Linked DNA regions of Homo sapiens: all the other regions are linked to region 1. The links come from fine-mapping of genetic effects on plasma protein levels. Region 1 holds a variant in brackets. A gene starts in each other region. All regions are shown on their forward strands. Region 1 overlaps IKZF1 (IKAROS family zinc finger 1). Region 2 holds the start of TGM2 (transglutaminase 2). Region 3 holds the start of GALNT5 (polypeptide N-acetylgalactosaminyltransferase 5).

Evidence for each region. PIP is the chance, under the fine-mapping model, that this variant and not a neighbour inherited with it causes the effect. Protein levels are from antibody-based Olink assays in UK Biobank. Linkage for the fine-mapping came from a reference panel and not from the study's own genotypes, which makes the PIPs less certain.
Region 2: TGM2 starts here. The variant in region 1 is fine-mapped to the plasma level of the TGM2 protein (UK Biobank, PIP 0.94).
Region 3: GALNT5 starts here. The variant in region 1 is fine-mapped to the plasma level of the GALNT5 protein (UK Biobank, PIP above 0.99).

The regions. Positions count from the first base shown.
Region 1 is chr7:50,357,820-50,361,819 of GRCh38, forward strand. The region is part of intron 3 of IKZF1 (IKAROS family zinc finger 1); the gene reads left to right. Among named protein-coding and RNA genes, the nearest start is that of IKZF1, 55 kb to the left of the region's middle. RefSeq lists enhancers at 2,432-2,951, 2,952-3,469. The variant G/A (reference allele first, on the strand shown) is at 2,465.
Region 2 is chr20:38,162,228-38,166,227 of GRCh38, forward strand. TGM2 (transglutaminase 2) reads right to left here and starts at 3,043. Exons shown (of 13, transcript NM_004613.4): 1 at 2,962-3,043. The coding sequence starts at 2,971. RefSeq lists a silencer at 2,896-3,335.
Region 3 is chr2:157,255,767-157,260,118 of GRCh38, forward strand. GALNT5 (polypeptide N-acetylgalactosaminyltransferase 5) reads left to right here and starts at 1,939. Exons shown (of 10, transcript NM_014568.3): 1 at 1,939-3,770. The coding sequence starts at 2,317.

The sequences.
Region 1 (4,000 bases):
TTAAGAAATGGGCTTTGGAGTGCCTCGAATTTGGCCTCCACTTTTCTTTTCTACTGTCTTACCTGGTCTTAGGCAGGTCGGGTGACCATCTGGAGTCGGAGTTTCTCTCATTTGTAAAGCGGGGGTGATATTTTTCTCACAGGGCTGCTTCAAGGGTTAACAAAGTTAATGTCTAGGAAGGACATAGCATAGCACCTTCACCTGGTTGCAAGCCCCTGGAGTCACATGGCAACAGCTGTGGAACCAGGTAAATGACTTGACTTACATGTTACACGCTCTTAGTTGTTCGATTTGTAAATGGGAAGAGTGTGTGACCCAAATTAGTCGTTTCCAGATATTTCCTGGTAAATGGTTGTTGAATCATAAAACTAGAAAGATGGGAAAGAAAGGGAGGAACCCCCCTTACTTCGAAGAAGTGTTGTTGATGTGAAGGACAGGACTTTTTGAGACACTCTCATCCTAAGAAACAGCTGATATCTACTAGGAAAAAACATGACATTTGAAGTTTCTTCCTAAGAGATGTGAGGTTTTGACAGAAGTGCCAGGAAGCCAGAGGTGTGTGAGTAGTGGGCCAATCTCGCGTGAAGGCTGTGGGACGGGGCAGGAGAGGGGCAGCCAGCATTTCCTGAGCGCCAGCTAATGGCGGGGACCTGGCACCTTTGCTCTGTGACTCTCCAGCTGTATGGTGACATGAGGCTGGCGTTTTCTTTGGTTTCATACGTGAGGAAGCTGAGGCTTGGTGATGTCCTGTGCATGGCTCGGACTCCAGAGCTACTCAGAGGCAGAGGCCGTCTGTAAACACCTTCAGGTGGTTGGAGGCAGGGTGCTGCAGCCAATGCTGATCACTCACAAGCCAAGGCTTTATTGTAAGGGCTAAATAAAATAACATATGCCTAGCATTTATACAGCACGGGGCTTTTTAGGAAATAGTGAGACGACCATGGAGAGGTGGAGGAAGAGAGAAGGGAAAGAAGAAAAAGAAAAAAAAAGCCTTAAAGAGTTTCTTAAGAGAACTATATATTACAAAGTCCTTGGAGTTTTTTTTCCCTGGTTAGACATAAGTTTACATGAAACGTTAAACGGCTTAAAGTAGCCACATCTCCTTCCTTATGTCTTCTCACAGCCACTTGTGAGTTTCTTATCAAGATACAGAATTATGGCCAAGTGCGGTAGCTCACACGTGTAATCCCAGCACTTTGAGAGACTGAGGTGGAAGGATCATGTGTGCTCAGGAGTTTCAGACCAACCTAGGCAATATGGTAAAACCCTGTCTCTACAAAAAAATACAAAAATTAGCTGGGCATGGTGGCATATTCCAATAGTTCCAGGCACTCGGGAGGCTGAGACAGGAGGATTGCTTGAGCCCAAGAGGTCAAGACTGCAGTGAGCTGTGATCGAGCCACTGCACTACAGCCTGGGCCACAGAGCAAGATCCTGTCTCAAAAAATAAAATAAAATAAAATAAATTCTGCAACAAGTCACAATTCCTTGCTCAGAAATCTCTACAGGTGTGCTTCTTTGTTAAGAAATGGAGGAAACATGAATTTCATCCTGACTTCTGAGTCTTGTAGAGACCAGATCTGACTCCTGCAGCCTTCTGCCCACAGAGCTGGCAGGCGGGGGAATGTGCGCAGAGTGAGGAGGAGCTGATCTGACATTCCGAACAGTGGAGACTGCTGCCTATTTGGCCGCACCACTGTCCTTCTGCATGGAAAAGTCACAGTAAATAATGGACTCTCTACCTGTGAGTCGATTTTACTGAGCTGCCTTTTTAAATATATGTGTAGAAAGGGCGATCTCTGTGTGTCATTTGCACATGTACATACACATGTACACACGTGCACACGTGGTCACTCATGTACACATGTGTGTGCACCAGTGCACCAGACCAGATGCACCCACCCAATTCCACGCTCCTCAGCCCCTTGCTTTCCTCTGCAGACAGCCAGTTCAGCTACAGTTATGCCAGATTGCCTGCACTCTGATCTTTACCATCACCAGACTCTCAGCTTGAGCTCATGCCTGAGAAATCCACTTTCTGGGAGGAAGGCAGAAGAAACTGCCAAGGCAGGACTGAAGACTTGACCTCCACCTGTAGTGGGGTCAGGTCACCAGAGGCTGGCTGACTCCCCAGGATTTCTCAGCAGAGTATTACACAAATACCCCTTCCTTAAAGATTAGCAACCACTTAAAGACACAAAGTGTGCAGGACTGTACCCATGGCCGAGAGCGGCGGGATTAAGAGGGCAACTGAGTTGTTCTTCCCATCCCTCCTCCTCTGTGCTGAGTCACCTTCTGCTTGGAATTCTGACAGGGACCCGTTGGGCTTCTGGAAGGGAGGGACAGCAGAGGATCCACCCTCTGTGTGTCCTGGGGGAGATTACTTATCTCTGGCCTCCCTGAAGCAGGGCCTGGGCTTCTGGAATCTTTGAGGCTGACACCCTGCCAGCCCTGGGGATGAGAG[G/A]GAATGGCCGTGTCTGTCTGCAGAGCCTGAGGAGGAGCTGAGCACAGCCTCCAGAGTTCTCTTCAGTTGATCGCTTAGGTGGACAAAGGCCACAGAAATGGATTTAAACTCCTCAGCCCTTTCTTTGCATGTTTGTTCTCATTTGAAGTCAGAAGTGATATGTCCTACACCTCAAGAACGTGTGAAATGCACATACAATAACCCCATTTCAGGAAGCCAAGTCCAGCTTAACAGTCAAAACATTTCCTTCAGTCTTTAGTCCTTCACTTTGCCGAACTCCCTTTTACACCGGCAGCAACAGTTTAACCTGTTGCTTCTGTAAGAGTGTGCTACTGGGAAAACCACATCTAAAACACGTGTGCAGTTACATCAGCTAGAGCACATGCTAAACAGTTGATCAAAGGCTCTTGCCTTGTGGCCCACGCTGCAGACACTCTGACGACTGCCGAGCTCCGCAGCCCCATGTCGTCCCTTCCGCACTGCCTGCTGTGCCTCTCCTCTCCATGTGGCAGGGAACACAGCCAGTCATCACCATGTGGCTCTGCCCGGCGCTGCCCCAGCATGTCCTGACAGGGCCTAGATATGGAAAGGTGGCTCTCCATGCACACACCCCAAGCCCCTCCTGCCCGCCGTGTGACCCACACTCTTATGGGCAGCCCAGTTATTTTGTAGCATTTCCCTTCCTTATCATTTTGGCCCAGTGATCCAGCACAAATCTCCCTTATTAGAATAAAATTTGGAATGACAAAATTAAATTTCATTTTTCACTTATATTGAGGACCTCACACTCTTCACCCCTGCCACGATCCCTGACAAGAGCCTTCCTATCTAATCATTGTTCCTCCAGCCCTCTTAGTTTTCTTCAGCCTTTCTTGATTGCCTGAATGTCCCTTTCCCTTCTCCTTTTAAAGCATGAACCAAGCTTTCTTACCCCGTTCTCATTATCATTTTTGCATTTTCTTCTTTGCATATGATTCTCCTTAAATTATAAAACTTGGGGGTAATTTCTAGAGGTGCCATCATAGTGCTTCTGTCTACTCAGTGTCTTTAGAATCAGCAAATATCATTTTTACAAAAAAGTAGTATTTCTTCCAAAAAAGAGTAAGCAAGAAGGTTACAACACTGGGAAAATATCCCTAAGCCTGTTCTTCAACCTGTTGAATGTTTTCCCCTAAATTGTTATATGGAGATCCTGGACCCGGAAGTTGGCTGACATGAAACAGGCCTAGCAGGGCAGCTGAGGAAATGCTCCAACCTCAGGATCCAGGAAGATTGCACATGGCACCAAAACAATCATTTAAAAGCTAATCCTGGCCAGGCACAGTGGCTCACGCCTGTAATCCCAGCACTTTGGGAGGCCGAGGTGGGCTGATCACAAGGTCAAGAGATCGAGACCATCCTGACCAACATGGTGAAACCCCATCTCTACCAAAAGTACAAATATTAGCTGGGCATGGTGGTGCGCGCCTGTAGTCCCAGCTACCCGGGAGGCTGAGGCAGGAGAATCACTTGAACCCGGGAGGAGGAGGTTGCAGT
Region 2 (4,000 bases), not on the chromosome of region 1:
ATGAATTAATGCATGTAAAACACTTAGTACAATGTCTGTTGTGTAATAAATACTCAATAAACACGAGCTATTCTATTGCTATCAGAGGGTTCTTTTGGTTTAAGCAGGGGCAGTATTTGGTACAGGTCAATTACATGGCCTTTGCCTTTAGATCCAATGTTCAATTTACAGGAAATACCCAGGGCTGAGGAACAAGTTAAACACAGAACCAGGATGCAGTTGACAAACTTCATATACTGGGAAATTATTGACAAAGGGTCCGGTTTCTTTAATAAATAGATTGCAAGAAAGAAAATGAAAAAAACATTGAAGAGAGAACCTATAAAGAGAAACTTAAACCCGTTGTGATGTATTGATCTATTTGGATCTTGATTTCAAAAAAGTATTTTAAAACATTTATTACATGTATGAGACAACTGGAAATTTAAATACTGATGGCATAATGGTGATATCAAAGAATTTTTGTTAATTTGTTTGTGTTAAAAAAAAGAGAGTCCTTATCCTTTAAAGGCATATACTGAAACATTGACAGATGACATGATGTGATGTCTGAGATGAAGGTGCGCAGGGGCAGGAGACACCACGGTGGTCAGTGCTGGGTGATGAGGACATAGGAATTTATTAAACAATTCTGTCTATTTTTGTGTATGTTCAATATTCTCCAAAACAAAACATTTTTAACATGATAGGTGCTTTGGAGACTTCCAGAGGTAGGTTTTAGTTCTGCTGTGTTGCTGTGTGAGCCTGGATAAGTGTCTCTCCCTCTCTGTGACTCCTCCTCTGAAGTCTCAAGGGGCTGCTGTGAGTCTAGAAGATGTGTTGGGAACCCCCTTCCCCACGGCCCAGCCCAGGACAGAAGCTTGATACGTGAAAGTTCCATTTACAGTTTCAGATGGAGCAGAGGACCAGGGCACGGTCAGGGTGACAGATGGGTGGGGGTCTTGGGGGAAAACAAATCTCATAAACCTTGGCAAGCTCAAGGTCAGGATGGGGAAGCCCTTAAGGTGGGAGGAGTGGGCAAGACAGACTCTGAGTGTGGAGCCACTGGACAGCATGTGGTCCAAGTGAGGCCCAGGGGCAGGAATTTGTTCAAAGTCACGCCGCAAGTTGGTCCTTGCAGTGGGAGAGCCCAGGTCTCCTGCTCACCATCGACTATTCCAAAAATGAGATGCAAAGTGCCTTGTATGTGAATTATCTCGACTTAAATCCCAAAACAACTCCGCTTACATAGATGCTATCATGATTCCCATTTTGTAGACAAAGACACCAGGTGGCTCCAGGTCCCAGAGCAAGTGGCTGCTTTGGGATTGGAATCCAGAGCTGTAGGATTCTGTAGGATTCTGCCCTGGGAACCACCTCACTACAGCTCAGTTTTTTCTCCAGCCCCTCTTATGACCACCCCTTCGCCACCATGTCCTGTGTTGTTCTCAAACCTGGGGGCAGATAGTTCTGCGCCACTGAAGTATCAGGGATGTCGGTCCCCGTGTAATCACAACAGAAGAGACCTCAGTGGCCAGAAGGAAAAACTTCCTGCTGGCCTATTGCGGCGAGGAAATGTTTTTGGAAACTTCAGACCCAGGGAGCTTGAGCAGGAAAGAGGCCATTGTTGTTCCCATGGAAGACCCTGGAGATACGGCCAGTCCCTGGGCTGTGGGAGCTGGGGCATTTTCTCCATCTGTTGTCCGAAGAAGGGTTTCCAGAAATCACGCCCAGCTCCAAAGATGCAGGTCTAGAATTGTAGGATTTATAGGATTTCTGCACTTAGAAAGGGCCTAGGCCTTCTAGGCCAGTGAGACCTCTGTCAGAAGTGGCCACTGTGACATGGGGCTGGAGGCTCATCATAACTGGCATCTCCAGGATCTCCCAGCCCCACTGAGCCCTGCTTTTGAGCATGGGGGTGAGAAGATGCATTGAGGACAAGCGGCCACCGAGGCGACACATCACAGTGTGTTGGGAGCTGGGCCCGAGGGAGGCAGGTGGCTGAGATCACACAGCAGGGTCAGGTGGGTCCACAGTTCCTGCCACCCATTCCTGCTCCACCTGCCCCATGTCCCTGTCCCACACCCCTTCCTGGGGGTTGCAATGGGTGCAGAAGCCATCCCCAGATGAACTTGACCCAAGAGCCAGCTGGGATTCTGGGTCCAGCAGTGACATCCTCCATTGTAGAAATCCCTCCAGCTGGGACCTACGAGAGTGCTGCTTGTGTGTGGGGAGGGAGTCAGGGGCACCAGTATGAAATTAGTTAAGCCTCTGTTCCACTCCTCTCGTTCCTCACAGATGCACCAAAGGCTGGAGCAGAGGACCAGGGCACGGTCAGGGTGACAGATGGGTGGGGGTCTTGGGGGAAAACAAATCTCATAAACCTTGTCCTATAAAATAAGGACACTGTTGTCCTTATTTTATAGGTGAGACTCAACAATTGGCCAAGGTCTAGGGTTGCAGAACGTGAGGGCGGGAAGAACAAGCCTGATTTCCGAAGGCTCCTGGATAGGATGCCGAAAGCTCCTCTCTGGCCGCTGGAGCCAAGGACTCAGCCAGGCTTGGCTTGCACACCACCGGCGTGGCATGCACACCACCTGGTCCTGGCTGGCAAGAACCACCCAAACCTAAGTGTTCTGAGGCCAGGCCAGCACCCCCTGCACAGCTCCAGGCACACATCAGAGAGCCAGCCCCCACTGACTGACTGAGGACACGTGCCAGTGGTCCGCCAGGACAGTACTTTACAGTTTACAACACCCCGTCGCGTTCCATTGCCTCACCTGATCCAGGGAGGCAAGGGTTAATGGTTATGCAGTGTGGATGGGGAAACTGAGGCTCCAAGCAGCATTGAGACGCCTCCTCACCCAGCCCGGTCTGCCTGTTGCTCTCCAAATCAGGACTTAGGGATTCAGCTCCCACCGGGTCCTGACCCCCAATGCCCCGGGGCCCCTGAGTGGCGGCTGCGGTGACTCTGATACTCACCCTCGGCCATGGTCGGGCGGGGGCGGTGGCTCCTTCCACTGGCGGCGAGACCCTCCAAGTGCGACCACTGGCGGCTGGCACTGCCGAGGCGGAGAGCGGCGCTAACTTATAGCCCGCTTTGGGGCGGGCCGGGGGCGGGGCCCCGCGGGAAGGCGGCGACCTGGGAGGCCACCCATTGCCCAGTCCCGGGCCCACGCCGCCAGCGCTGGGGCTCACCCAGGGGACCGGAGCCCGAGGGAGGGACGGCGGCCGGACGAGGGCGCCCCCTGGGGGAGCGGACAGGGACACACAACTAGCCCAGGATACAGACACACCTGGACCCACAGACTCAGACCTTGGAGAACAGACACCTGGACACACACACTCAGATACAGACACACGCAGCACCCTCATAGAAACACACAACGGAACCGGGGTGCACCTGGACACACAGATGTGGACTCTTAGGTCAGATCTGGGATCAAGAACACCTCCCCACCCCCAACACACACACACACACACACACACACACACGCACACACTCACACACATACTCAGATATACATACACAGAGAGCAGACGCAGACACACCAAGACAGGGCTGTGGAGATACACACACAAACACAGATACACTCCCACAGATACACCAAACACGGCTGGCCACGCAGACACAGTGACATGGATACAAATTCAGATTCGAATGGCAGACACACACCAGGACATAGATACAGCCTGACACAGCCAGGTAGCCTTGACCGCGAGCCACACACAGCTGTGGACACAGATGAGCAGGTGTCCAGAGGCACCTGGCACACACACAGACCTCCTAGACACCAATGCCACTGTCAGATGTGGACGCAAAATCAGAGAGGGCACCCACAGACACACAAAGATGTGGCTACTCAGAGGTAGACACACATGCAGGCATGGACTCAGGTACAGACATGCAGACACACCTGCAAAAACAGACACACCCATGTCCCTTCCTGTAGCAAAACCCAGATAATCCTCCGATCTCACCCATCCTTGTATCTGTCTAATCAGCCATCCATCTAATCAG
Region 3 (4,352 bases), not on the chromosome of region 1:
GTATTCTGATTTAGTTGTTATGGGAATGCATAGATTTTATTAGACTGTACTTTAGACAGGGAAGGAATGTCACACAAGTTGTAGACTGTATTGGCCAGGATTTTTCAGAGAAACAGAACCAATAGGATTCATAGAGGTAGATAAGTGAGTTGCAGTTTATTACAGGAATTGGCTCATGTGGTTATGGAGACTGAGAAACCTCAGTCCAGGCCACCTGCAAGCTGGAGAACCAGGAAAGCCAGTAACATGGCACATTCTGAGTCCAAAGGCCTGAGAACCAGGGAAGCCAATAACATCACTCTCAGTCTGAGGTCAAAAGCCTGAGAACCTAGTGAGGGATGTGGAGGTTGTGGGGGCAGACTGGTACAAGCCCCAGAGGCCAAAGCCAGAGAATCTAAAGTTCTAGTCCAAAGGCAGAAGAAGAAAGATGTCCCAGCTCACTAACAGAGACAGAATCCACCTTTCCTCTGCCTTTTTTTCTATCTGGGCCCTCAACCAATTAGTGGTGCCTGCCCACATTGGGTGAGGGCATCTCCTCCCCACTCAGTGCACTGAGTCAAATGCCAATCTCTTCTGGAAACACCCTCACAGATATACCTAAAAATAATGCTTTACTGGTTCTCTGGGTGTTCCTTAGCCCAGTCAAGTAGACACCTAAAATTAAATGTCTCATAGGCAATGTTCAAAAACCAAAAACAAACAAACAAAAAATTGAGACTTTTTTTCTAGACCAGTGTTTCTCAACTTTAGCTGCACATTTGAAAGACCTGGGAAGCTTTGTAAAAAAAAAAAAAAAAAAAAAAATATATATATATATATATATATATATATATATATATATATATATTTAATACAATATCAGCCCAAATGTCATCTCCACCTCCTCTCTCATCAATTGACCAGAGTTTTGGGGATCTTGTTTCAAGTGGTTCTAATGAAAAGCCTGTGGCGGAACTGCTACCCTACCAGTCAACCAGCATCACTCAAAATCTGGTCCAAGTCCTGGTGTGGTCCTGAAACTGTTGCTTGCTGGTTTAAGACGAGATAAGTACTGAAACTGAGAGTAAGTGTATCTTAATCTGTTCAGGCTACTATAGAAGAATAACATAGACTAAGTGACTCATAAACAACAGAAACTTATTTCTCACAGTTCTAGAGACTGAGAAGTCAGAAATCAAGGCACCAGCAGATTCGTTGACTGGTGAAGGCCCATTTCCTGGTTCATAGATGGCACCTTCTCATTATGTCTTCACTTTGTGGAATGGCAAGGCAATAGGGCCTCTTTTTTAAGGGTGCTGATCCCATTCATGAGGGCTCTATCCTTATAATGAAATCACCTTCAAAAGCCCTACCTCCTAATACTATCACATTTATGATTAGGTTTCAACATATGAATTTTGGGTGGACATAAACATTCAGACCATAACAAAGTGTTTAGAAACTTTTATAGCAGTATGACAAATTAAGTTTATTTGTAATCAAATGTAATAATAAAAACAGATGGATTAGTGAAAAAAAAATAGTTGGCTTACAAAGAAATACATTGAAACCCCTTGAATGAATGATCTAAATAATTAAACATATACATCTCTGGAAGTGAGGATATACCAGGCCCCTTCTTTAAGCTGTTATGTCTTAAAGCTGAAATGTTAACTTCAGTGATAAATTCCTCAGGCAGAGCATTGGCACCTGGCTACAACAGGGTTAATGAGCAGGAGTAGGGTAGGTGGGGTCACAAACCAGGAACACATGCCCTCCAAGTTAGATAGCTTTTTTTCCTCTTTAATTGCCGTTTAAACACACATGCTCTCACATAACACAGAAGGTGAGAGCTGAATGAAGTTTTCTGGGTAATGGCATGAAATGTTTTCCTTATGAGAAGTGGTGTTGAGTTACAGCGTGCAGACGGAGAACGGGGAGGAGAGAAACGGCAGTCTCAATCTGGCCCCCACCTTTTCTTGGGCTTGTAGGAAGGTGGACATGGGCTCCCGGAGACAAGACAAGTGATATGTTGAACTGTTCGGTGGCTGGAATCAACTGCTCCTGGAGTGACCTAAGGCCAGTGTTTATCAGAACTTAGCCAGGGCCAGCCAAGCAGGCACAGATGCTCTGCTATGAAATGCCACGCAGGCAGAGACTGACAAGCGGTAGGAACTGAGCTTTCCCCTTGGACTGCTGCTTCCTGCTGTGTTCAGGGGAGGGGGTCACTTTCTGGCAACTCTGCTGCTGCTGCTGCTGCTGCTGCTACTTCAGCTTCCTCTCCACTCAAGGTAAGCAGGCTAAGGGAGGGCAGGCTGCTAGGGAAAGCTTTGTACCATGAACAGGATCCGAAAGTTTTTCCGAGGAAGTGGGCGAGTCTTGGCATTTATCTTTGTAGCTTCTGTCATCTGGCTCCTCTTTGACATGGCAGCTCTCCGCCTCTCATTCAGTGAGATCAACACTCGGGTCATCAAGGAAGACATTGTGAGGAGGGAGCGGATAGGATTCAGAGTTCAGCCAGACCAAGGAAAAATTTTTTACAGCAGCATAAAAGAGATGAAACCTCCCCTAAGGGGACATGGGAAAGGGGCATGGGGCAAAGAGAATGTTAGAAAAACTGAGGAGAGTGTGCTCAAGGTTGAGGTGGACTTGGACCAAACCCAGAGGGAAAGAAAAATGCAGAATGCCCTGGGAAGGGGCAAGGTTGTGCCGTTGTGGCATCCTGCACATCTGCAGACCCTCCCTGTGACTCCTAACAAGCAGAAGACAGACGGGAGAGGCACCAAACCTGAAGCCTCCTCTCACCAGGGGACACCAAAGCAAACGACAGCTCAGGGGGCTCCAAAGACCTCATTCATAGCAGCAAAAGGAACTCAGGTAGTCAAAATATCAGTACACATGGGACGTGTCAGTTTAAAACAGGAGCCCCGGAAGAGTCATAGTCCCAGCAGTGACACATCAAAACTAGCAGCTGAAAGGGACTTGAATGTGACCATCAGTCTTAGTACTGATAGACCAAAGCAGCGATCACAGGCAGTAGCAAACGAGAGGGCACACCCTGCCAGCACAGCAGTGCCGAAGTCTGGGGAAGCCATGGCCTTAAACAAAACTAAGACTCAGAGCAAAGAAGTCAATGCAAATAAACACAAAGCCAATACGAGTCTTCCTTTTCCTAAGTTCACTGTCAATTCAAATCGCTTAAGGAAGCAATCTATTAATGAGACACCTTTGGGAAGTTTGTCAAAGGATGATGGAGCTAGAGGGGCTCATGGGAAGAAACTCAATTTCTCTGAAAGCCATCTTGTGATTATAACCAAAGAGGAAGAGCAAAAGGCAGACCCCAAAGAGGTCTCTAATTCTAAAACCAAAACAATATTTCCTAAAGTATTGGGTAAAAGCCAAAGTAAACACATTTCCAGGAATAGAAGTGAGATGTCTTCCTCTTCACTTGCTCCACATAGAGTGCCACTGTCCCAAACTAACCATGCTTTAACTGGAGGGCTAGAGCCAGCAAAAATCAACATAACTGCCAAAGCCCCCTCTACAGAATACAACCAGAGTCATATAAAAGCCCTTTTACCTGAAGACAGTGGAACGCACCAGGTGTTAAGAATTGATGTGACACTTTCTCCAAGGGACCCCAAAGCTCCAGGGCAGTTTGGGCGTCCTGTAGTTGTCCCCCATGGAAAGGAGAAGGAGGCAGAAAGAAGATGGAAAGAAGGAAACTTCAATGTCTACCTTAGCGATTTGATCCCAGTGGATAGAGCCATTGAAGACACCAGACCTGCTGGGTAAGACCTATTTCTCTTCTCTTTCCTCAACCCCAAGTGCTTTGGCTGTTATGTAAAGAGGATTTATTGCTAGATAATTCTGTGTGATTTTTGGTCACCTAGAGAATTAAAGAAACATTAATCATTGGATATCATTCAAATATTTCACCAGCTACAGAGACAAAAATTCTCTTATTAGCAGTTGCAGAGTTCTTGTTCTCTGAGACTTTGGTCCCTACCATTAGCTCATGTTCAATTTTCTTCCCTCTGTTGAAAACCTATTAAAATGATTAGATGAACTCAGTTCATAATAACGTGTATATAAATGGTAGAGCTTAAAGTGTAATTCCATTAGAATAGTGACAATGAAGTGAATTCCCAATTTTGGAACTTTTCATTATTAGCAAGTTTGTCAGGAATATATTTGGGAAAGAAGCACACAGAAGGACTCTTCTAGGCCTCCCTGGAATCATATCTTAACCAGCAGAATTCTGCCTAATCATAAGTAATGATAAGCAGGATAGCAAGAGAAGTGACTTTACTCCCTAAAATTTAATCTCCTTTATAGGTGGAGATGGTAGATATTTCAGGAGATCAGTTACA